Linked DNA regions of Homo sapiens. The protein of the gene in region 1 purifies or fractionates together with the protein of each later gene. This does not show direct contact. Each region holds a gene or a part of one and is shown on either strand. Other genes may lie near its edges. The genes, in order: RCBTB1, ABCD4, HOXB6 and HELZ.

Region 1 (5,641 bases):
AGAAAATTTATTTACGTGGTTAAAGAAAATACAAAAGGTTGTTATTGAAAAGTGTATATGCCCTCTTTTAATTATAGATTAAGCAGAAAACTCTCATAGGAATGCTGTGCTTCTGTTTCTAAGGGACATGCAATTACCAATTGAAGAATGTTCTAGGCTCAGCATGGTGGCTCATGCCTGTAATCCTAGGACTTTGGGAGGCCAAGGCGGGAATATCACTTGATCCTAGGAGTCTGAGACCAGCCTAGGCAATATAGCGAGACACTGTCTCTACAAAAAATAGAAAAAATTAGCCAGGTGTGGTGGTGCATTCCTGTAGTTCCAGCTGCTCTGGAGGCTGAGGTGGAAGGATTGCTTGAGCCCAGTAGATCAAGGCTGTGGTGAGCTGTGATCATCCTGGGAGACAGAGTGAGATCTTATCTCAAAAATGAAAAAAAAAGTTTTTAAGATATAGTTCCTTGTATAAATGTGAGGGACCTATGCGTTTATTAGTAACTGTTTGCCACAAAGGTTGCCATTGCAGAAAAAGGCACATAAGCTAAGACCATTAAAGTGGCCATTTACAAGTCTTTTTGGAAATTTAGGTAAAAACCTATTGGCAAAGAAATACATTTGAAAGGAACAGAAAAGCCCTATGTCATTCCTTACCTAAGGGAGTAAATATCTGAACCACAGTATTAATTGAAAAGATGAACTGGAACTGTTTCTGTCTGTGCACCTGTGGTCAACCAGTCTATTCCTTTCATGTACAGTTTTCTGACCATGAAATCCATGATTCTTTCTTAGACAACTATTTCTTTTTTATTTCTCAGGTAATTTTTTATGTAAGTGAAACTATTTTTTTAGTATTCTGAATGGATTCTTTTTCTTTTTTTTTTGAGACAGAGACTCATTCTGTCACCCAGGCTAGAGTGCAGTGGCGTAATACCAGCTCACTGCAACCTCCACCTCCTGTGTTCAAGCGATCTTCCAGCTTCAGCCTCCCAAGTAGCTGGGATTACAATCGTGCACTAACCACGCCCAGCTAATTTTTGTATTTTAAGTAGAGACAAAGTTTCGCCATGTTGGCCAGGCCGGTCTCAAACTCCTGACCTCAGGTGATTGAGGCTGACCTGCCTCGGCCTCCCAAAGTGCTGGAATTACAGGCTTGAGCCACTGCACCTCAGAATACTTTTTCTCTTTGTGCCGTATCTCACTTTAAAATAATTTAAAAATATGATTTTTAGAAAGATACAACTGTGTTATACATAAGAAAATCCAATATTCAGAAATCAGTTTCTTGTGCAGGTGGCTTTGTACATGTAAATACAGTGTAGGAGCTGCTCAGGTTTTCTTGAAATATCTGACTATCCTAGTGGATGTGAGTGTTTTATAAATAAGCTTGTAGCAGGCCTGGGAAGAGAGGAAGGGGAACAGGCAATGCAAAAAAAAAAAAGGAGTGATGGCTGTTTTGACGATAAGTCAGAAAAGAAGAAAAATTGTCGGATAATCAGACAATAATCAGCTTGATGTAATCCAGTTAACATATAAAACAGTTTTAAGAATATGCTTATTATGTAAAACAAAAAACAAATGAATCATTTTAATGTTGATACATAGTCAAAAGTTTTGAACTCTTGTTTCTGAATTTCTTTCACTTTATTGTTTAAAATGCATTTCTGTACATCATTTTAAAAAAAACAAAGGAGCAAAAAAATCTTGGGGACCATCAAATGGAAACAGTAGTGGAAGTGCTAGGTACTTCCAGGCTCTATGTATACCTATTAGTATTTAATAGGAGTTACAAAAAATGAAAGTGAGTGTATGTAAAAGGCATGTACAAAAACCACTTGCATGTGGAATGTTTTTTGGGTGCTAACTAAAGGTCTGTGATCCTGGTGTGTTCAGGCCCAGATAGTAGTTAATATACTTACTTTTTTTTTTTTTTTGAGACGGAGTTTTGCTCTTGTTGCCAGGCTAGAGTGCAGAAGCGCAATCTCGGCTCGCCACAACCTCCACCTCCCGGGTTCAAGCGATTCTCCTGCCTCAGCCTCCTGAGTAGCTGGGATTATAGGCATGCACCACCATGCCCAGCTAATTTTGTATTTTTAGTAGAGACGGGGTTTATCCATGTTGGTCAGGCTGGTCTCGAACTCCTGATCTCAGGTGATCTACCCGCTTGGCCTCCCAAAGTGCTGGGATTACAGGCATGAGCCACCACGCCCGGCCCAAGGATACTTCTGTTTATCTGATTTTATCAACTTAATTAGGTAATTTTTTTTTCTTTTTTAAAAATTGCTGCTGAACAAATAAGACTTTTGCTTTGCTGTTTTAGGTGTGAGCATTTTCGATCCATGTTCCAGTCGTATTGGAATGAAGACATGAAGGAAGTGATAGAAATCGATCAGTTTTCTTACCCAGTGTATCGTGCCTTTCTCCAGTACCTCTACACAGACACAGTCGACCTGCCGCCAGAAGATGCTATAGGTACTGTGGTAGCATTGGGATGGACGAGCCGCATGGTGGAGAATATATCCCCTCATATTCTTAGTCCTGAAATGTAAAAAGCTTCAGGTGTATTGGCTTTAATTTGGTGCTTAAAAAAGATTTGAAGTAAGTATCTTTAAAAGTAGTATTGTGTAGTTATTATGGTTAATAGTTTTGGACCTAGTTTATGACCATAGGCTTTTTTGTTCTAATGTTACTGAAGGACTTTTTTTTTTTTAATTTATTTTTAAGTTCTGGGGTACACGTGCAGGATGTGTAGGCTTGTTACATAGGTAAACGTGTGCCATGGTGGTTTGCTGTACCTGTCAACCCATCACCTAGGTATTAAGCTATGGGCTTATTTTAATTTTCTAGTAGTGAAGTATAAGTTGCTAATGCATTTAGCGTTTTAGAAACAAAATGAGGATTGAAATTGCATTTTTTGCTCTTTCTTTGCACTATTGAAGAAATTGTATAAAGTAAATATAGGAGAGGTGTGGAAGTGGAGGAGGCAGACAGTAAAAAAGAGAATTTATTTACTCAAATTCAGAATCTTATCCACTAAGAAACTTCTAATTTACCTGTACACCTCTGTTCACCAAAACAAAATCTCTGTGTATTGGAAATTATTATACATTTGATTAAACCTTTCACATATTTTACTTTTAGGTCTTCTGGATTTGGCGACATCTTACTGTGAAAACAGACTGAAAAAACTTTGTCAGCACATTATCAAGAGAGGAATTACTGTGGAGAATGCCTTTTCGCTATTCTCTGCTGCAGTCAGATATGATGCAGAGGTAACTTAAACAACAAACAGAAACCAGACCACCTTTAACTCCCTTTGTGCTCGTCTCCCCCGCTTCTTGCGTGAGGCATGGAAAACGATGAGTCACTCCACTTCTGTTTAGGGAATCAGTGAACCCATTGAAAACTGAAATCTGCCCTTGCTTCTTAATTCCCTGTTCATTGTTTCAAAAGTCGTTGTTCCTCTACTTTCATTTCTAAGTAAGACAGGAAACGAACCAAGGTCCTAGCAGCTGTGCTGCAGGTTGGAACATAAGGTGCCACAACTAATTGGACTAACAAACAGCATATTTTAGTTTCAAGTCTTTCTTAATGTCAGCATATGTGTTTATTTCGAGACTTACCTTGCTGTCTTTCCACCTCTGCCCTGTCATAAGCTGGGGATGTGTATGATTTGTATCTGTGTACGCTCTGCAATTCTATTAGTGTCTAATTACAGCTCACAGTTATTTACCTGTTAAGAACTTGCTGTGGACTCCTTTTGTTTTTGCACTGGGTTGAGTTCTTAATCTGAGATTCACAGATCTGTTGAGCCTGTGAATTAATGGGCTTTGGGGAGTCTGAAAGTTTGTGTGCATTTTTTTGAAGAACCAAAGCATCAGACTGTAAGCTCCTCGTGAGCAGGAACTGTCTCATTCGTCTGTATACCCTATAGTGCCTGGCACATATTAGGCACCTGATAAATGTTGAACTGGATGAAGATAGTACCTTAAAGGAAGCATTAAGGATGATCAGTGAGCTGAAGGCGGGTATGGTTGGTTTCACAGATTCAGAGAGAATAAAAGGTAGAGAGCAATAGCCTTGGAGTTTCAAAATATCTAGCTAAGTTGTGCATGTAGAATGTTACAATTAGCCTATCCTTGCAGATACTTTGTCATTTGACAAAGCAGAATATCTGGTATCAAGGAGTTTATCAAACACCTGCAAAGATCTGCAGCTGTGTCCTTTGAGGTATAAGAGGACACACTTCATCACACATAGGGATCAAAGTTGACCACGATGTTTTCAAAATGTATCTTATTTTTGTTTGAGGCTATATTCTGATTATAAATATTTGATAAGGTCAAATGTAGCTGACTTTGTCTGCAGCCCGACAACAGATGGAATGATGATCAAAGTAAATCATTTCTAATAGAAAATGGGGTATGATTTTTTTCCTGTCCTTCCTGTGACACCCTGAACCTCTTTATTAGAAAAGCTGTTTCTTTAGATTTTATTTCCACCCGGTGATATAATTTTAAATTGGGTTAGTGCCTTTTCTGTCCATTTGGTGACGGATGTTAGAATCCTCTCTGGGCCTCTCCACGCTCCTCCTCCTTGTTAACGAGTTCCATACTCAGGATCAGACCTTGCTGACTAACACCAGTGAGAACAACCTGGGCAGAGGCAGATGTCTCGGCTCAAGTTGCTGGAAACTTCTTCCTCACTTTTAGCTAAGATCTGTCCTAGGAAGTTTACAGAAAAAGCCTCTGCTGCTGCTTCCTGTGCCAGCAGGTCATTTCCTTTACTAGTTTTCATTTTTCTCATATTAAGTATAAACATGATAAAAACTTCCTTTAGAAAGACTCCAAATAAGTGTGATTCCCCAGAGTCTGTCACAGTGTGGGCATGGAGCTGGCGCTCAAAAATGCATGTTGAATTAAATAAATGAGTGAAAACATTTGAAATACCTCACCATGAAGGTGTGCTTAAAAAAAAAAAAATGGCCAGGCTTGGAGATCACGCCTGTAATCCCGGCACTTTGGGAGGCCAAGGTGGGCCACTTGAGATCAGGAGTTTGAGACCAGCCTGGCCAACATGGTGAAACCCTGTCTCTACTAAAAATACAAAAATTAGCTGGGTGTGGTGGTGCGTACCTGTAATCCCAGCTATTCGGGAGGCTGAGGCAGGAGAATTGCTTGAATCTGGGAGGGAGAAGTTGTACCACTGCACTCCAGCCTGGGCAACAGAGCAAGACTCTGTCTCAAAAAAAAAAAAAAAGTTAAAAAAAACTTAAAATCCTACAAATATTACAGATTCAACGTAGAAAAATTAGAGAATAGAAAGAAGACAAAAAGAAAGACTCACCTCTTTATTTCTAGGGCATATATATATATGTGTGTGTGTGTGTATATATATATATTCATAATTTGTATGTATTTTTTTTTCCTGGTGATACAGGGTCTTGTTCTGTTGCCCAGGCTGAAGCACAGTGGTGTGATCACAGCTCACTGTAGCCTCAACTTCCTGGGCTCAAGTAGTCCTCCTTCCTTCCCAGTCCAGGAACTGGGACTACGGATGTGTGCCACCACACCCAGCTAATTTCTTATTTTTTATTTGTTGTAGAGACAGGGTTTCATTATGTTGCCCAGGCTGGTCTTGAACTTCT
Region 2 (5,641 bases), on another chromosome or scaffold:
CTGCAATAAGCTGTGATTGTGCCACTAGATTACAGCCTGGGCTACAGAGTGAGGTGTGAGACACTGTCTCAAAAATAAATAATAAAAAATAAAAATAAACAAAATAACTTGGCAGCGGCAGCAGCGTCTGTGAAAAAGGCTTAGGAGCTGAAGAAGTCAGTAAGGATAGAGTAAGTCATTTTTAAGTGGTACCAAGAAAGCGTTAAATAATCTTATATTTTACAGTGAGAAAATACAATTCTCACTCCATCTTTCTGATTTTATTAAGGAGAAAAATCTCAGTTGAGTGCCAGTCCGTCTAACTCCTCACCTCTCTTTTTTACAAAATGAACAAGCCTCAGGCCCAGAGTCTATGCAGGCAACAGCATCTAGCCGTAAGTTAATAACACCGATGGTTTTTCTTGTATTTATTTTTAGTTACTTTCCATCTATGTTAAGTGTAAAATTTCACTTAAAAATCCATTTAAACTTAAAAGGTTTGTTTTTAAAAATATTAAGTAACTCAAGTACTAGAAGTACAGAAGCCTGGCAAAAATTATGAAGGTAAGGAAGGTAATACATAGACAACTGAACTGGAGGGGCACTGGTCTGAGTGAGGACTTTGGGCACAGTAACTCCACCTCATGCTTTGTGCTTTCTGGGTTTTGTCTAATTTGCTGTTGTTGTTCCCTAATATAGACTATTTTTTTAGAAAACCCAACCTTATTTTGGCTAAGGGGAAAGGGATTTACTTTCATTTGGGTTAAGGTAGGGCAGACCAAAGGCCCCTGGAAGTTAGTGGTTCAGGTTCTAACTACACAACACTGGCAAGTGGAAAGGGAGATGTGGGGAGAAGTGAAAAACCCTGGGCATAAGATTCCAGAACAGCAGAGTGTGCTTCCCTTCCCACCAAGCTGTCAAATACAAATCTGGAGATTCAATAAAAAAGATCATTCCATGATAGAGAAGACAGAAAGCTGTAATTCTTTTTAATGTTTAACTTTTCTTTGTAAAAAACTTATTAAAAAACTTAAATGGTCAGTTAAAGTTAAAAATCTATTGCTGCACAATTTAACTGATTAAAAGATTTCCAGATCTCTTGACTCCAAGAGTCATTTCTTTCATTTCTTACAGATCTCACACTTCCAGATTTCTCTTTAGCAAACATGATCTGAAATCATTTGTAGGTAATCAGCACTTCAAGCATATGGAGGCTCTGGCTGAGGCAGCAGAGTCCTGGGAGACTGAACACTGGGAGATTCAGTGTCCCCCACAGAAACCTAGACCTGGGCTCAGCCCACCACTGCTAGGGGTCCTGCACAGGACCCATGTGGCTCCTGCACGGGATCTATGTGGCGAACCTGAGCTCGATCTTCGCTGTCAGTCCTCCTGGTCTCTCCTGAGGGCCGCCGACCCGCCACAGTGTGGCTCTCCTTCCAAAAGCCAGAGCTTCATTCCACTTTGATTCTCATCAGCTCCCATCTTCCTCCTCCACAGAGTTTCAGAACCAAGGAATGAAACTACAAGAGACCACCACCACATGGAGATCAGGCTGCCCTGGCCGCTGGCAGAGGAGGCCACTCGGTTCTCTCTGCTACTGCTACTCCCCGTTTTGAGGGGCCTCTGGCCCTGGCCAGGCTGAGCCTTTGGGTTCTTTCTCCTCCTCAGGCCATCCTTGTGAGCACGGGTACCTTCTCAAGGCTCTGCCGATGTCCCACACTGATGAACGTCATCCCCAGCTGCTGGCCGATGCGATAGAGCTCGCTCTCCACTTCCTCTGTCAGGGCACTGGTGGCTTCATCAAGCACTGAGGGGGCAGAGCACAGAGGAAGAGATCAAAGCCCTGCCCTCTGCCGCCGCTGCTTCTCCTCCCACCCATACTCAACCCCAGCTGGGACCCAGGGGAGGCTGAAAGCTGCTCTGGCTTCCAGAAGCCCTGCCTCAGGGAGAAGGATGGGCCAGAGGAGCAGAGGGCCAGACTCTCCAAGGGAATAGCCTGTGAGCAGCTGCATGAAATCTCTCAGCTTCTATAGATAAGCACCAGCCACTCCCTGGGACCACTCAATCCAGGGAATCCCAGTCCCCCGCAAGAATGTCAGTCTTTGGAAAAGTCCACACCCATCCACCTGCCAGGCACAGCTTGGTGGGAGAGGAGGATGGGTGCCCATTCATTTGATGGTGGAGCCAGAGGAGCATAAAATTATAACCCTTCAATGTTGGCTCCTGGCTCCAGCTGCTGCCAGGCAAAAAGCTTATGAGCTAGGCATAGTGGTTCATGCCTGTAATCCCAGCACTTTGGGAGGCCAACGTGGGAGGATGGCCTGAGTCCAGGAACTCCAGACCAGCCTGGGCAACATAGCATGACCCTGTCTCTACAAAAATAAAAATAAAAAAATTAGCAGGGTGTGGTGGCACATGCTTGTAGTCCCAGCTACTCAGGAGGCTGAGGTGGGAGGATCACTTAAGCCTGGGAGTTCCAGGCTGCACTGAGCCATGACTGTGCCCCTGTACCCCAGCCTGGGTGACAGAGTGAGACTGTCTCAAAAAAAAAAAAAAAAAAAGAAAAGAAAAAAGAAAACAGAAGAAAAGCAAGCTTATGAGCTGGCAGTACCGCATATTCAGTGTTAACTCTGACGATGCCAGGCACTGTTTACACGGGCAGGGCCTGCTGTCCTCTCCAGCAGGGAATGCGGAGAAGCCCAGCCATTCACAGGTGTGCCTGGGTGCCTGTGAACACATGCTGCTACACCCGTGAGTGCAGACAGCGCATGGCATGTGCAGCCACAAGGCGAGACCTCACCTGCGTACTTCGGCTGCAGGTAGAAGAGTCGGGCAAAGGAGAGCCGTTGCATCTCCCCCGGGGACAGAACATCATACCTGAGGAAAGGTAGGAGAGAGGACTGCTAGAGGAGGAAGAATATAGCTTGGCTTTTACCTAGAATGGTCTGGGTAGGAAGAGGTTTCTCTGCACAGAGGTGAGCCCCAGGAGACAGAAGCCCCTTCCCTTTCGACCATAGGCCTACAGCCCTCACAGAGTGAGGCAAAACTCTGTTCCCAAGGGCATAAACTTGCACCCGACTGACCAGCCAAACATCTGGACTTTGGGGTCAGGAGCCGTTCCATTCCTTGACAGGGACCCTGAAACCCACTGTCTTTATGGTGGGGCTATCTCTGGAGCACCCAAGCTCTTTTCTTACCAGTTCCAGTCCACCTGCTGGTCCAGGCCCTCTGTCCTTGCCACCAAGTTGGACTGTAACAGACCCAGAGGGCAGGATGTCCATGAAATGGCCAGCCCTGCTACCTGCCATCATGGGGAACCTCCCTCACTCCCCAGCATACACACACACCTCTAAGACAAATATATGCCCCAGTGGCATACCAAGGCGGGGGACTGTGGGACAGTCTGCCCCAGGCAGAGAGGAATATTCTACCAATGACACTGTTTAGACTTGCTGGAGCATGATGACAGTAAAAAGCAAACCGCCTTCATCAATCCTATTCTTGTTTTAAAATTCTCCAATGAGAGCACTACCCCCTTCGTGCCTAAACCTGGCCAACAGCACACACTGTCAACTGATACTCCCATTCTCCACCCCAGGTTCAGACTTCCAGTCCTGGGCCCAAGCATAGCAGGGCCAGCACCTGCCTACCTGTAGCTGGTGCTCCCAGGTGGGCTCGGGTCCTGAGGGTCCCTCTCCCCACTTACCAGGCCTGCCAATTCCAAGAACCTCAAGATCCTCTCATCATCGGCAGAACCTGCACAACAAAGAAGCCTTCTGCAAAAAGCCAGAGCCTCCTGGCTGGTCAAAATAGACAGGGCAAGGCTGTGCACAGTGGCTCACGCCTGTAATCCCAACACTTTGGGAGGCCGAGGCAGGTGGATCACAAGGTCAGGAGATGGAGACCACCCTGGCCAACATGGTGAAACGCTGTCTCTACTAAATATACAAAAATTAGGCAGGCAAGGTGGCGTGCACCTGTAGCCCCAGCTACGGAAGAGGCTGAGGCAGGGGAATTGCTTGAACCCGGGAGGTGGAGGTTGCAGTGAGCCGAGATCACACCACTGCACTCCAGTCTGGGTGACAGAGTGAAACTCCATCTCAAAAAAAAAAAAAAAAAAAAAAAAAAAGAATAGACAGGGCACATCATGGATGATGCAGGGGTGGGGGCCTCAGAATGCTGGGCGAAGGCTTTGAAACCACAGGTTGCAGATCTTCATAAGGGAAGGGGTGGGTGAAGGAAGGCATCACTTTCCTTGTCCCAGTGGGCATCTCTCCTTAAGGACAGAAAGAATGAGGTGAGATCTGGGTACAGACCCCAAAACAGTCAAAGGAAGAGGAGAGGAGCCCCTCTTCCTTGAATCAGCGGCCTGGCTGGAGCCTCTCCCCAAGGGCACAGATGAGGCCACAGTCAGGTAGAGCAGGGACAACCATGACAGAAGGAGAGGACATGACCTAAGGAGGACCAGCTCACCTGAGTCGGGGTAGACCTCCTTCAGGGGATATATCACCTGAGAAAAGAAAAAAACCACACCAACCTAGGAGGGCGAGCAAAAGACGGAGCTGCACACAGCCCACCCTCCCTCCAGAACCCACTGGAACCTCCCAAGGAGGAGAGGTGGGAACGCCTGGCCTGGGTCAGATGGGAGAGGCTCTGGCCGGCAGACAGCAGGGCAAGGTCCCTACAACCTTCAGAAGTGTGTTTAGGGGGAACAGTCTGACAGCCTCCTGAGGGCAGGGGCCCCAGAATCCGACCTTGGGTGTTTGACATACGCGTGTGGTATTTGGCGTGAGTCCTTGCCCCATTTACCTGCCTCAGGAGCTGCTATGAGTAGTGGGCCCAATCCATGGATGTGAATAGAAGGTTCTTAGAGCCAGCAGTTCCCAGGCCCGGGCCACTTCACCACCTCACCTTTTGCCCTGACTCTAGGACCTGAGACTTGTCACAGTGCCAGAGGTCCCAGCTGTGGGTGGGCGGGGTTGAGGAGGGAGGAGTGAGCCCCCTGAACTAGACTGACCTGCTCCCGAAGGGTCCCGTCAGTGAAGAATGGCTTTTGTGGCAGGAATAGCACCCCATGGGGCCCAAAGTCCGTCAGCATCTGCACTGAGCCTGCAGAGCCCACAGAAACCTCCATTGTGAGATCTCCCAGAAGAGGCAACTGCCTGTCTCCTCTCTTCCTTGTTCCCCAACAGAAAAGAATGGATTCTACCACACCGTCCCCGCCTTCACCCCACCCCTAGGGCCCAGGCTGGGTCAGAGGCAGGGAGGGCCTGGCTCTCACCCCGTGTACTCGTCCAGAGGCCACCCAGAACCCGGAGCAAGGAGGTCTTGCCAGTGCCCGTGTTGCCTGTGATGAGCAGGCTCTGTCCCTCGGAGATCTTTAGGCTCAGATCCTTGATTAGGGGTTTGTCAGAGGAGGGGGCAGAGATGGAGACCCGCTCAAGGAGAAATGCTGTGTCTGCTGGCTCTGCCGCTGGCCACCCTGGGGGTCTGTGTCAGAGAAGAGAGGGGGCGTGAGGAAGATGGGCAGGGTCAGTATTGCTGTGGGGGAGGCACTGCTCCCGGGAGCCACCACCTGTGGATTATTATGGGCTGACTTGCATCCTCCCAAAATCACATGCTGAAGTCCAGCCCCCTAGTGACTCAGAATGTAACTGCATTC
Region 3 (3,870 bases), on another chromosome or scaffold:
TTTCAGAAAAGTTAACCCCTGCGTTGCTTCGACCCCTTCTCTCCGGGGAGGGTTGGGTAAATGTCTCCGAATCGCCTTGAGAGAGAACTAAAGAAGGTTTGTTTCTAGGGTTTTGTGTCGGTAGAAGGTGAGAAGAGTTCTCCGCTAAGATAAGCAAAGAAGAAACACCCTCCTCCCCAGGTTTTGAACATCGTTTTTCCTGTTTATCAGATCTGCTCTGTCTCCTCCAAGCCTCGGCTTATTGTTCCTGCTTCTCCACAACCCTTCTGGTCTGAGGGGGCAGGCCAGATCCCACTGCCTAGAAGACCCAGAAGAGGAGGAGCTGGCAGGAGGGACTGAGCCCAAGCTTCCCCTTCTGACTCTGTGGCTAGACTAGGAGCTTCTTGGAAGGCGGCGACGAGGGTGGCTGCCCAAAACATTCTGCCTGGTTCTAGTATGCAGCTGCTCACCCTTGGCAGGGGAAGGGGCACTGGGGAAAGGGACTAGCCCTCTCCTCACTTGGTGATATGGAGTGAAGGAGTGAGGGGTATCCCTCAGCCTAGGTGGCTTTATTTGTCTGATCCCTATCCTGCCTGCAACCCTCACTCCAGTACCCTCTACAATCCCAAAAGACTTAAGAATAGCCTGGGCTATAGGATTTTCAGGAATCAGGGATGTCCCAGTAAATCTGGGCACAAGGAAGAAATCATTCTTCTTCCAGTTGTGGGCTTTGAACCCTCCTGATAGTTGAGGCAGTCAGAGACCACTGGGAAGAAATGCATCCTCACTCCTCTTCTAAGTCTCTGTAGGAGCTGCCAGTTCTTTTTAAAATTAATTCTTTCCCAAGACTTGGTTTTTGCTTTAGTTTGATAGGGAGAGAAGGTCGTTTGCGTTCTCTTGGGGACTCAGCAGGCTGCTTCCAGCCATCAGCCAGCATCCCCTCTCCCTTCTGTCTGTATCTCAGCATCGCTACAATTCCCTCCCACACCCCGTGTTTGTATCATCAGCTTTGCCGCCTTACAAATTTAGGTGTGTCAGAGAATGTATGTCTCTGGCTCTTTCATCCAAGGAAAATAAGCATTGAGCCCAGGCTGGGAGACAGGGCCACAGTGCATTCCCAACATTCTAATATACATACACAGGCCAAGTAGTGAAGGGTGACAACCTTCACACCTGGGGACAAGAAGGGGCCAGGGCATGGAACAAAGTCAGATGTCAGGCCAGGCTGACCCTCCTCTGCCTTGTCCTTCCTTTGGGCTCCTTTTTCTGGCCAAGTTCTGCCCACTGAAGATGGTACAAGACACTAGGGAAGGTGGCAGGGGACTGAGCTTGGATCACCAAGGGTGGGAACTTATTTGGTTGCAACGTGGTCTCCAAGGCTCTCTAAACTCAGGGCAACTTCTTGGCTGTACCTTAATGGCAAAATAGCCATCCCTAGATGGCCTCCAATTACTTCCTAACCTGACTCTGTGGGAGTGTTTGATAAGCATTTAAGAAAACAAATTTAAACCCCCTGATAATGAAGAAGGATAAATATTCCATATCTAGGTATGGCTGGGCTTGCTTCTAGAGAGGACTAGGGGCCATTTGAACAGGGGGAGAAAAGTGGGAGAGAGTACCTGCATGCACCTCCCTGCCTACTGCTGAGGCTGAGCCCTGGGCCTCAGCCTTCCCTGCCTCCTCCCTGCCCACAATGTCTCCATCCTAGCACTAAATAGTGTGGTTTTCTCAGTGAAGTCTGAACAAAATAAGATCTGGTGAGGAAGGGAGCATTTCCCTGTGTCAGAAGCAGGGAAATAATTGCCTTATCTTTAGAGTCACAGCCCCCAAATTAACCTCACCTCTGCAGGTTGCTTGTCTGGAGATGGAGCCACTACAGGCGGGCCTGGGCGCCTGGAGTCGGGCATGAAAGAAAATAGCGCCTCATCGCTCTTATCTAAGCCCAGAGGTATTTATGAGCGTTTATTCGTCTGATCCGTTTGTTTGGGAAAAAGAGCAGGCGGGCAGGGCAGGCCAGAGACCGACTCCTTTCTGGAGCCAGATCCCTACGAATCTGTCTGTGGTTCGGTCCACCGCCCTCTGTCTGTCTCCTTGGGGGAATATGTAAATACACAGCGGGCTCAGCCATCCGCCAGTCTGGGGTGTCTCTCCCTGCCTCAATGAGGAAGTGTGTGTTCAGAGAGATGGATAGAAGTGTGTACCAATTCTTGAGTACATAACAGAGGGATTGTACAGATACCCCACAGGCAGGATTTATAATTGTAATTTTCTATGCTGTGAGTCTGCAGTCCTGTGGGCAAGCTAACACATTCCAGCTCCCAGGAAAATGTTTCCTAAGTTGTGTTCAGTTCGGGAGTAAAATTCTTGATAGGTAACCTCAGGAGGGATATTTGCGTGTGTGTGTGTGTGTGTGTGTGTGTGTGGTGTGGTGTGGTGTGTGTGGGAGGGTGCTGAGACATTGTCCAGGCTTCCAATTTCCTCTAAGCTATAAAGCCCTCTCCCTCAGCTCTTTGAGGTGATGAGCACCTTCTCCCACCACCCCCAACTTTGGCTGGGGTGGGGTGGGATGAAAATATTTCAACTCAATTCTCGTCCTGGACTCTGTTTCTCTGGGTTTGGGGAACATAAATAAATGTTCCCAGGGGTACTGAGTGATCACTCCCATAGGTTGAGGGAGGCTGTTTAGATGAGACACTTTGCCCTAAAATCGGCCCCTCCAAATCAAAGTACAAAGACTTCATTTTCATTATGCAAAGGAGCGGCATCCTCTTTGATCTTTAGGGGAGTGAGCAGTAGTGCTGAACCCACTCTCCCGGTTTCCTACCCGCAGGTCCAGGGGACAACCTGAGGGCCCTGAAGTGTTTCAATACCATGTACCAGCTTGACTTCTCTACATGTCCTTTGGATTGCCCAAAAGCAAAATCTCAGAGGGGCCAAGGACCTTCTAGGGCTGGCTCCCTCAGGGCCTCCTATAGAGCAGCTCCTTGAGTCGGGCCTTATAGCCACCAGAAAGTCACCTCGCCGCAGGAAAGCTATAAAGAGCTGCTCCAGAGGCGCCGAAAGAGGGTGAGGGCTGCAGCCACAGTGTTTGTCCCCAGCACCACCAGGCCCCTTAACCTCGTCAGCTCCTCTAGCCCTCGGCCAGACTCTGGCAACACCTTGGTTTGCCTGGCACCGCAGGCAATTTCCTGGAACCCCACCCCCACCCAGGAACGGGGACCACAGCACCTTTAAAGGAACTGCCAGAGCTTCCTCCTACGGCTTGAAAGCCCAAGCTAATCAGTAACCCGTGAGACAGGGGCCAATATTCAAACGCTGCAGCAGAGGCGCATAGCCTAGCCCTGGCCACCCCCTCTTGGGAAGGAGGTCGAGTTAAGCCGGTGTGGAGGGTCCAACAGGAACGGAAATTACGACGGTGTGGTTCCTTAAGGATTTGGCCCCAGTCCCACTACCAAATTTTTCCCAAATCATATTTAGGTAGACTTCGCTTGAAAAGATCGAGAATGGAGGAGGGGATCGGCACTCACTTGCAGACATCAACAGTTTCCAGAAAATTCGGTTCAATTCCTTCACCACGGACCCACCAACCAAGGAGCTGGCAAAACCCACTAACCAACCAGGAGAACACAGACCCGGTTTGTCTTTTGACAACCGAGTGGAACTGACGGGGCCGGCGCCTGCCCTGCGGGTCCCCTCCCTTGGCTGAGAAGAAAACCAAATAAACCTTGAACAGCCTTGGCTTCGGATGTCTCAAGCGGCCTCATCCTCTCCCGCGCCTTGGTGGGGTGGGGGTGGGGATGGCGGTGGGGGTGTCGGCTCTGATCCCTCCACCCTTTGATTCAGGGCCCCTGCCCGCTGGAAGCAGAATTAGACCTTTTTATATATGCCCTA
Region 4 (5,641 bases), on another chromosome or scaffold:
ATTCTGCTTTTATTTCTTTACAATTCTGTTAGGACTCTCCACATAATCACAATGAAACAAAAGTAGTCACGCAATAAAAATTTCAAGAGTTAACAAAATGGTAAGATATTCAATGACATCAATTTTAAGGGTGGGGAAGTTATCAAAGAGCTAAAAATTAGCATAAGTCATTATGCTGATGACCAAAAAAAGTTAGCCCAATATCATCTAGCTTGCCTAAAACCTAGATCTAAGTTTTCCTTTCCCCAACTTTCAAAATCTTACATAAGAAAATGCATTTTGTAGATTTCATACTGTTTGTTATTTCTCCTTTGTCTTTAAACAAATTTCACTATGTGAAATCATTTTAATGTTTCCAAATTAGTCCAAGAAAATGCTTAAGTTTTTTCAATTATTTTCTATCACATAACTACTTAAAAGTAAAATCTTAAAGGAAAAAAGGCAAAGACATCAAACTACAAAGAAGTCACTAAAAAAAGGATATGGTATTATGAAAAAAGAGGAGGATATCCTTGTCTATATAAATCCTCTCTACCACATCTGAATGAAATGTAAAACTTAATTTTCAAACTAATATGTTAGAAATATCAGAAAGGAGATTCTTTGTTTCTTCCAGCTACCAGGCTCAAAACATCAATCATCTTGGAAAACTACGCTTTCAACTCCTACAATGTGTTCTCTTGCCAACATCTGCAGGCACTGTGGCCTCAAGGGCTCTCTGCTTTTTAAGTCCTCTGCTTGCACCCTAGTCCGAGTCCTCATTTTAAAAAACAAAAACAAAATAAAGAAACAAAAAAAAAACCCAACTCTTCTCTTTTCCTACTTTCTTCCTTTTGTGTATAAGCCAGAAATTATCCTAATCAAGGCTAATTATAAACATAATAGCTACTATTAACTAAACGTCTACTATGAGCCTGATGTCGTACGAGGCTTCAGGTTGTCACAATGATCTATGACAGGTATTACTAGCCCCATTTTACAGATGTTTCCCCGTGAAGCCCAGAGAAGTTAAGTACTCTGCCCAGGCTCACACAGGCAATAAGTCGAAAATCAGGATTCAAATCCTATTCTATTTGACTCTGATTTTTGTCCTCTGCTCTTCTCCAACAAGAAAAGTAACTCGTATCTGAGGCAGAAGTAGTCAAAGTACTTTTACTCTTCTCAAGCCTATGAAAGTACCCTGAGCTCCTTTTCATCACCACCTTTTCTAATTATCATGTTTTAATACTATCGTTCTTTTACATTTTACTGCAGACATTTAACATTTTATATTATTAATTAAATATTTTACTAACTAATAAGAATTCTTGACAGCACTTACAAACATTTCTATGGGTAAAGGAGTCTGAGTTATAAGCCACTAACCTACAAGCAAATTTCTAAAATACAACCCACATGTAAGCCAAGAACATCCTTTACAGTTATATTTGAGAGTAGGAAATGTATGTTGTTCTCTCTTTATGACTTAAATCTCTTTATGATTTAAAAAGGATGCTGCTTAGTGGTTCTCAAGGTCTGGTCTCTAAAAGCAACTTACTAGTTCAGGGGTAGGCAAACTACAACACGAAAGTCAAATGTAGCCATTGTTTTTGAAAATAAAGTTTTATTGGAACACAGTCACACCCATTTGCTTATGCATTGTCTATGGCTGCTTTCTCATTACGACGCAGAGCTGAGTAGTTGCAACAGAGATCACCTGCCCTGCAACACCTAAAATATTAACCGTCTGGCCCTCTGCAGAAAGAATTTGCCAAATACTATGCTAATATATATAAGCCAAATACTTTATTTTTATTTTATCAACTACCATATCTATTTAGCTATGGAAATTAATTTATTCTGATTCCAAAGAGTACTGAAAAGATGACAAAAATACATACTACAGAATAAAAACAAGTAAAAGGGATCAAAGTCAGTGGGAAATAAGGGTAAAGTGAAGTCTGGGTAATCTTAGCACACGTAGAAGAAGATGTCACCTAACTGTTAAATTTGGGCACCATCGTTGTTTCAACCTTACTAGCAGCTAAAGTAAAGAGGAAGACAGACCAATTTCACCTTTTCACTATGTGAAAAAAAATAAAATTCTAGCATTCGCTAATGAGAAAAACTACTTCTAGGTTCTCATGAATGGGACATTATGGTACATAGTAAAAAACGTCCTCCACAATATGGTTAGTTATAGTCAATACAAAAGCAAGTTTCACACAGCTCTGCTTTTTGAAGTGTTTGTTAAATAAAAAGTTTTTGTTAAATAGAATAGAACACCTATAAATCCAACCAAGAGCAAAGGAAATGTGGGCTAACATGTCCTTTCTTTGTCCTGTTGGATCTTGGCATAAAATTTAGATATAGGCAATAAATTGACAATGTACAAAGTAATTCCTTATGTCATGCTTACATGATGAAACCAGGGACCTCTTCCCAAAAACAAAGAGCAGATTTGATTAAAGGCACCCTTGGCCTCCTTAACACTAGTGGATGCACAAACTGATTTATGAAGGCTTATTATACTCAAGACTTTTCATTCAGAAACAATGTACTAACATCAGCAAAGTTAACTAGTCAATAGGACATGAAAATAAACATTGTAGGTATATACACAATTACCATTAAAATGATATTCTACCCAAACTAATATTGAAAGATATTACTGTGCTAAAACCATCTTACTGTGAAATGAAACTGGTAGACCAAAACAGGTCTGATCATCTACTCATACAAGTTTGGGGAACCTCAAAGTTCAAGCTTTACCTGGTGGCTCTGTGAAGAAATCAGGGCACAGTGTGAATCATTATAAGCCCATTACACAGTAAATGAGTCAATTAAGTTGGGATTTTTTTCTTTATTACTATTCTCTTCCTATCCATGGAATATATTCAGGGGCCAATACATATCTTTGAATGTTGCTTTTTAACACATTGTATCGGGGGAAAAAAGTCTAAATATTACCTTCTGTAGAAGCTGCATCAATCATTACTCTTTGCATGAGTACTGGTTCCAATCCAAAGTCGAAAACTATGGTTTGGCGAAAAGTTCCAAATATTTCTGTGTTAAATGCTATCCCGACTTTATACACGTAATGATCTAATCCATTTTGGGCCATCTTTCCTCCTATCCATTCTTGACAGTTTTCTGGGACTTCTTGTGATACCTGGGTAGTACTATCTCCGGCAGATATTGCAATGATACTAAAATGAGGACGATGAGCATCATAAAGCAATGCTACACGATACAGCATTCTTGCAGGCTACAAGGAAGTTAAAATAATTCATTGAGTACAAGGGGGTGAAAAATCCAATTGTAATTGGGCTCTTCAATGAAAATATTTCCATAAGGGACTTTTACTTCCCCAAGCTTCTAAGATACTATAGCCATTTAAGAAAAAAATCAGAATGGTTTTTTAAAATCAGTTGTTAAAATTATTTATTTATGCTATATCGCTAGCCTCCCTTCTCTTCCTGTGACATGTTCATTTTTCACTGTGGCAAAAGCTATCACCCTATATAACCATCAACCTTCAAACTTTCCATACTCTTCACCTACAGAAGTTTCATGTAGCCTCAAGTAGGAAGCCTTCGTAAGAGGGCAGTTACCTCTGAAAGCACTGGATTGGGTTCAAGGCTGAAGCTAACTGTTCTTAGATTTTTCATCTCCAGATACAGAAAGTACAGCAGAAGAAATGCCACAAAAAAGACAAAAACTTTTCCACTGAGCATACTCACAGAAACTTTTTACTTTGCTTCGATCTTAAACTTTGACTACTATAATTTAAGATGGGAAGCACTGCAGAAAATGCCCCATATTAAAAACCCATTATCACAGAATTTGTGACTTCATCATATCAAATATAAAAACAAGTTGTTATGGTTTAAAAATCTTAGAACTACTAGAATAAACAATTTTTAAGTAGTTAATTACAAGCCATGAACCCCATCCTATGTCCCAAGTTTAGAAGACAATATGTCAAAGATCTCTTTACCAAATAAATAAATATGAAAGCACCCTAAATATCTACAAAGATCTCATCTAAAAGTATTTTTAAAATTGTACTTTTAATGATCAAAGTACAGAAATATACTTTAGTACAATATAGAACCTATATATAATGTACTTAGATTAAAATATTTTCAATATTCTTTAACACAGAGATTCAAAGGTCAAAAAAACGTTCAGAAAATTAAACACAACTTTTATGCTTTAACTAGCACAAAATTCATACCTTACAAGTGAGAGCAAAGGTCCATGTCTGGTGGGATTTTTTGGTGCTGACAGTAACTGACAGGTCAGGATTGTGCTCTACCTTTACTCCTTCTATACATTCACTAAGCTGAAAACAGACAGCAATTTATGTTATGTTTTTATTGCTAAGGGCACAAACAAAATCTTTTAGCATGGAAAATAAATGTCAACAGTTAAGATGATGATGGAACTGTTTACAGACCAAAGTATTTTATACCTTCATTTTCAGTAATTTTGACAAGAACAAAATATAGTAAAGCTAAAATAAGAGAGAAAAGAAAATTAACCACCACCACAAAAATGGCACTCAAAAACTGCCTGAATGAAGGTAATTAATACAGTACAGGCAAATCTCCAAACAAGTGGTTTAGTTCTGCTCTTCATTTTAACAAATGGGTCTACTATAGCTACTAAAAACATCATTCTATCAGAATCAAGTTCTTTGCAAAGAAGATAAGGAAATAAACCAAAATAGAGCACACAATAAAGTCAAGACTCAAGTTCATTGTTTAAGACAAACAAAAAATAATGTAGCTTATTTTCCTCACCACTTTCTCAGGAGACAATGAATTCATCCACTTTTCTATCAAGGTTTCCATGTAACTGCCTGAGAGCTGTTTATTCTCATTTTGCTGTTTCAATTTTATCAGCCGTGAAGCATATCTTTTCTGCCATTCTGCTAGTTCTTCCTGGGAATGTGCTGAAGTACACTGGGCACCATACCTACAGATTCCTTGTTCTAAAAATCTAAGTAGAATAGGAAAGACTGTTTTATCATATACTTTGTTGAACCATTTAAAAATAAACTCCCAGCATTTGCCCTCTGATTCTTCAATAAAAACAAAACTTCATGTGCTGAAAGGCCATATTTATCGTACTGTCTTGTACAAAGGAGGGAGAAGAGGTTTAGAGAACATTTACAACAGTTAACCAAAACATCAGCTCCCCATATTATTCACTGACTTTCTCTGGAATTAGGGGATCCTAAGGCATAGGTATTCACGTCGGCCCTCCAAAAGAGGCACTGAAAAGTAGCTTCCTTGGTCATATAAGGACTCTTACTAGACAATTCCTCTTAGTGTAACTGGGTTTTGTTTTTGATTTTTTGTTTTTTGTTTTTGAGACGGAGTCTCACTCCGTTGCCCAGGCTGGAGTGCAGTGGCGTAATCTCGACTCACTGCAACCTCTGCCTCCTGGTTTCAAGCAATTCTCTGCCTCAGCCTCCCGGGTAGCTGGGATTACAGGCGCCCGCCACCACGCCTGGCTAGTTTTTGTATTTTTAGTAGAGACGGGGTTTCATCATCTTGGCCAGGCTGGTCTTGAACTCCTGACTTGGTGATCCACCCGCCTCGGCCTCCCAAAGTGCTGGGATTATAGGCGTGAGCCACCACGCCCAGCCAGA

Evidence for each region.
Region 2: the proteins of RCBTB1 (region 1) and ABCD4 purify together in Homo sapiens (co-immunoprecipitation; one large-scale study listed by IntAct). This does not show direct contact.
Region 3: the proteins of RCBTB1 (region 1) and HOXB6 purify together in Homo sapiens (co-immunoprecipitation; one large-scale study listed by IntAct). This does not show direct contact.
Region 4: the proteins of RCBTB1 (region 1) and HELZ purify together in Homo sapiens (affinity purification with mass spectrometry, with the first as the bait; one large-scale study listed by BioGRID). This does not show direct contact.

Annotation. Positions count from the first base shown.
Region 1 is NC_000013.11:49,538,501-49,544,141, reverse strand, and holds part of RCBTB1 (RCC1 and BTB domain-containing protein 1), read left to right. Parts: intron 1-2,314; coding exon 2,315-2,466; intron 2,467-3,135; coding exon 3,136-3,266; coding exon of another isoform or gene 3,267-3,275; exon of another isoform or gene 3,276-3,734; intron 3,735-5,641. UniProt on the Homo sapiens protein: May be involved in cell cycle regulation by chromatin remodeling.
Region 2 is NC_000014.9:74,285,031-74,290,671, forward strand, and holds the end of ABCD4 (lysosomal cobalamin transporter ABCD4), read right to left. Parts: intron 5,470-5,641; coding exon 5,261-5,469; intron 5,089-5,260; coding exon 4,997-5,088; intron 4,490-4,996; coding exon 4,453-4,489; intron 4,256-4,452; coding exon of another isoform or gene 4,125-4,255; exon of another isoform or gene 4,082-4,124; intron 3,736-4,081; coding exon 3,686-3,735; coding exon of another isoform or gene 3,630-3,685; intron 3,230-3,629; coding exon 3,177-3,229; exon of another isoform or gene 3,174-3,176; intron 2,857-3,173; coding exon 2,780-2,856; intron 1,787-2,779; coding exon 1,671-1,786; coding exon of another isoform or gene 1,644-1,670; exon of another isoform or gene 1,500-1,643; coding exon 1,431-1,499; 3' UTR 239-1,430; downstream 1-238. UniProt on the Homo sapiens protein: Lysosomal membrane protein that transports cobalamin (Vitamin B12) from the lysosomal lumen to the cytosol in an ATP-dependent manner. Targeted by LMBRD1 lysosomal chaperone from the endoplasmic reticulum to the lysosomal membrane.
Region 3 is NC_000017.11:48,598,619-48,602,488, forward strand, and holds part of HOXB6 (homeobox protein Hox-B6), read right to left. Parts: intron 3,724-3,870; exon of another isoform or gene 3,457-3,723; intron 3,046-3,456; exon of another isoform or gene 2,810-3,045; intron 1,928-2,809; exon of another isoform or gene 1,829-1,927; intron 1-1,828. UniProt on the Homo sapiens protein: Sequence-specific transcription factor which is part of a developmental regulatory system that provides cells with specific positional identities on the anterior-posterior axis.
Region 4 is NC_000017.11:67,185,370-67,191,010, forward strand, and holds part of HELZ (probable helicase with zinc finger domain), read right to left. Parts: intron 4,987-5,641; coding exon 4,788-4,986; intron 4,328-4,787; coding exon 4,220-4,327; intron 3,248-4,219; coding exon 2,950-3,247; intron 1-2,949. UniProt on the Homo sapiens protein: May act as a helicase that plays a role in RNA metabolism in multiple tissues and organs within the developing embryo.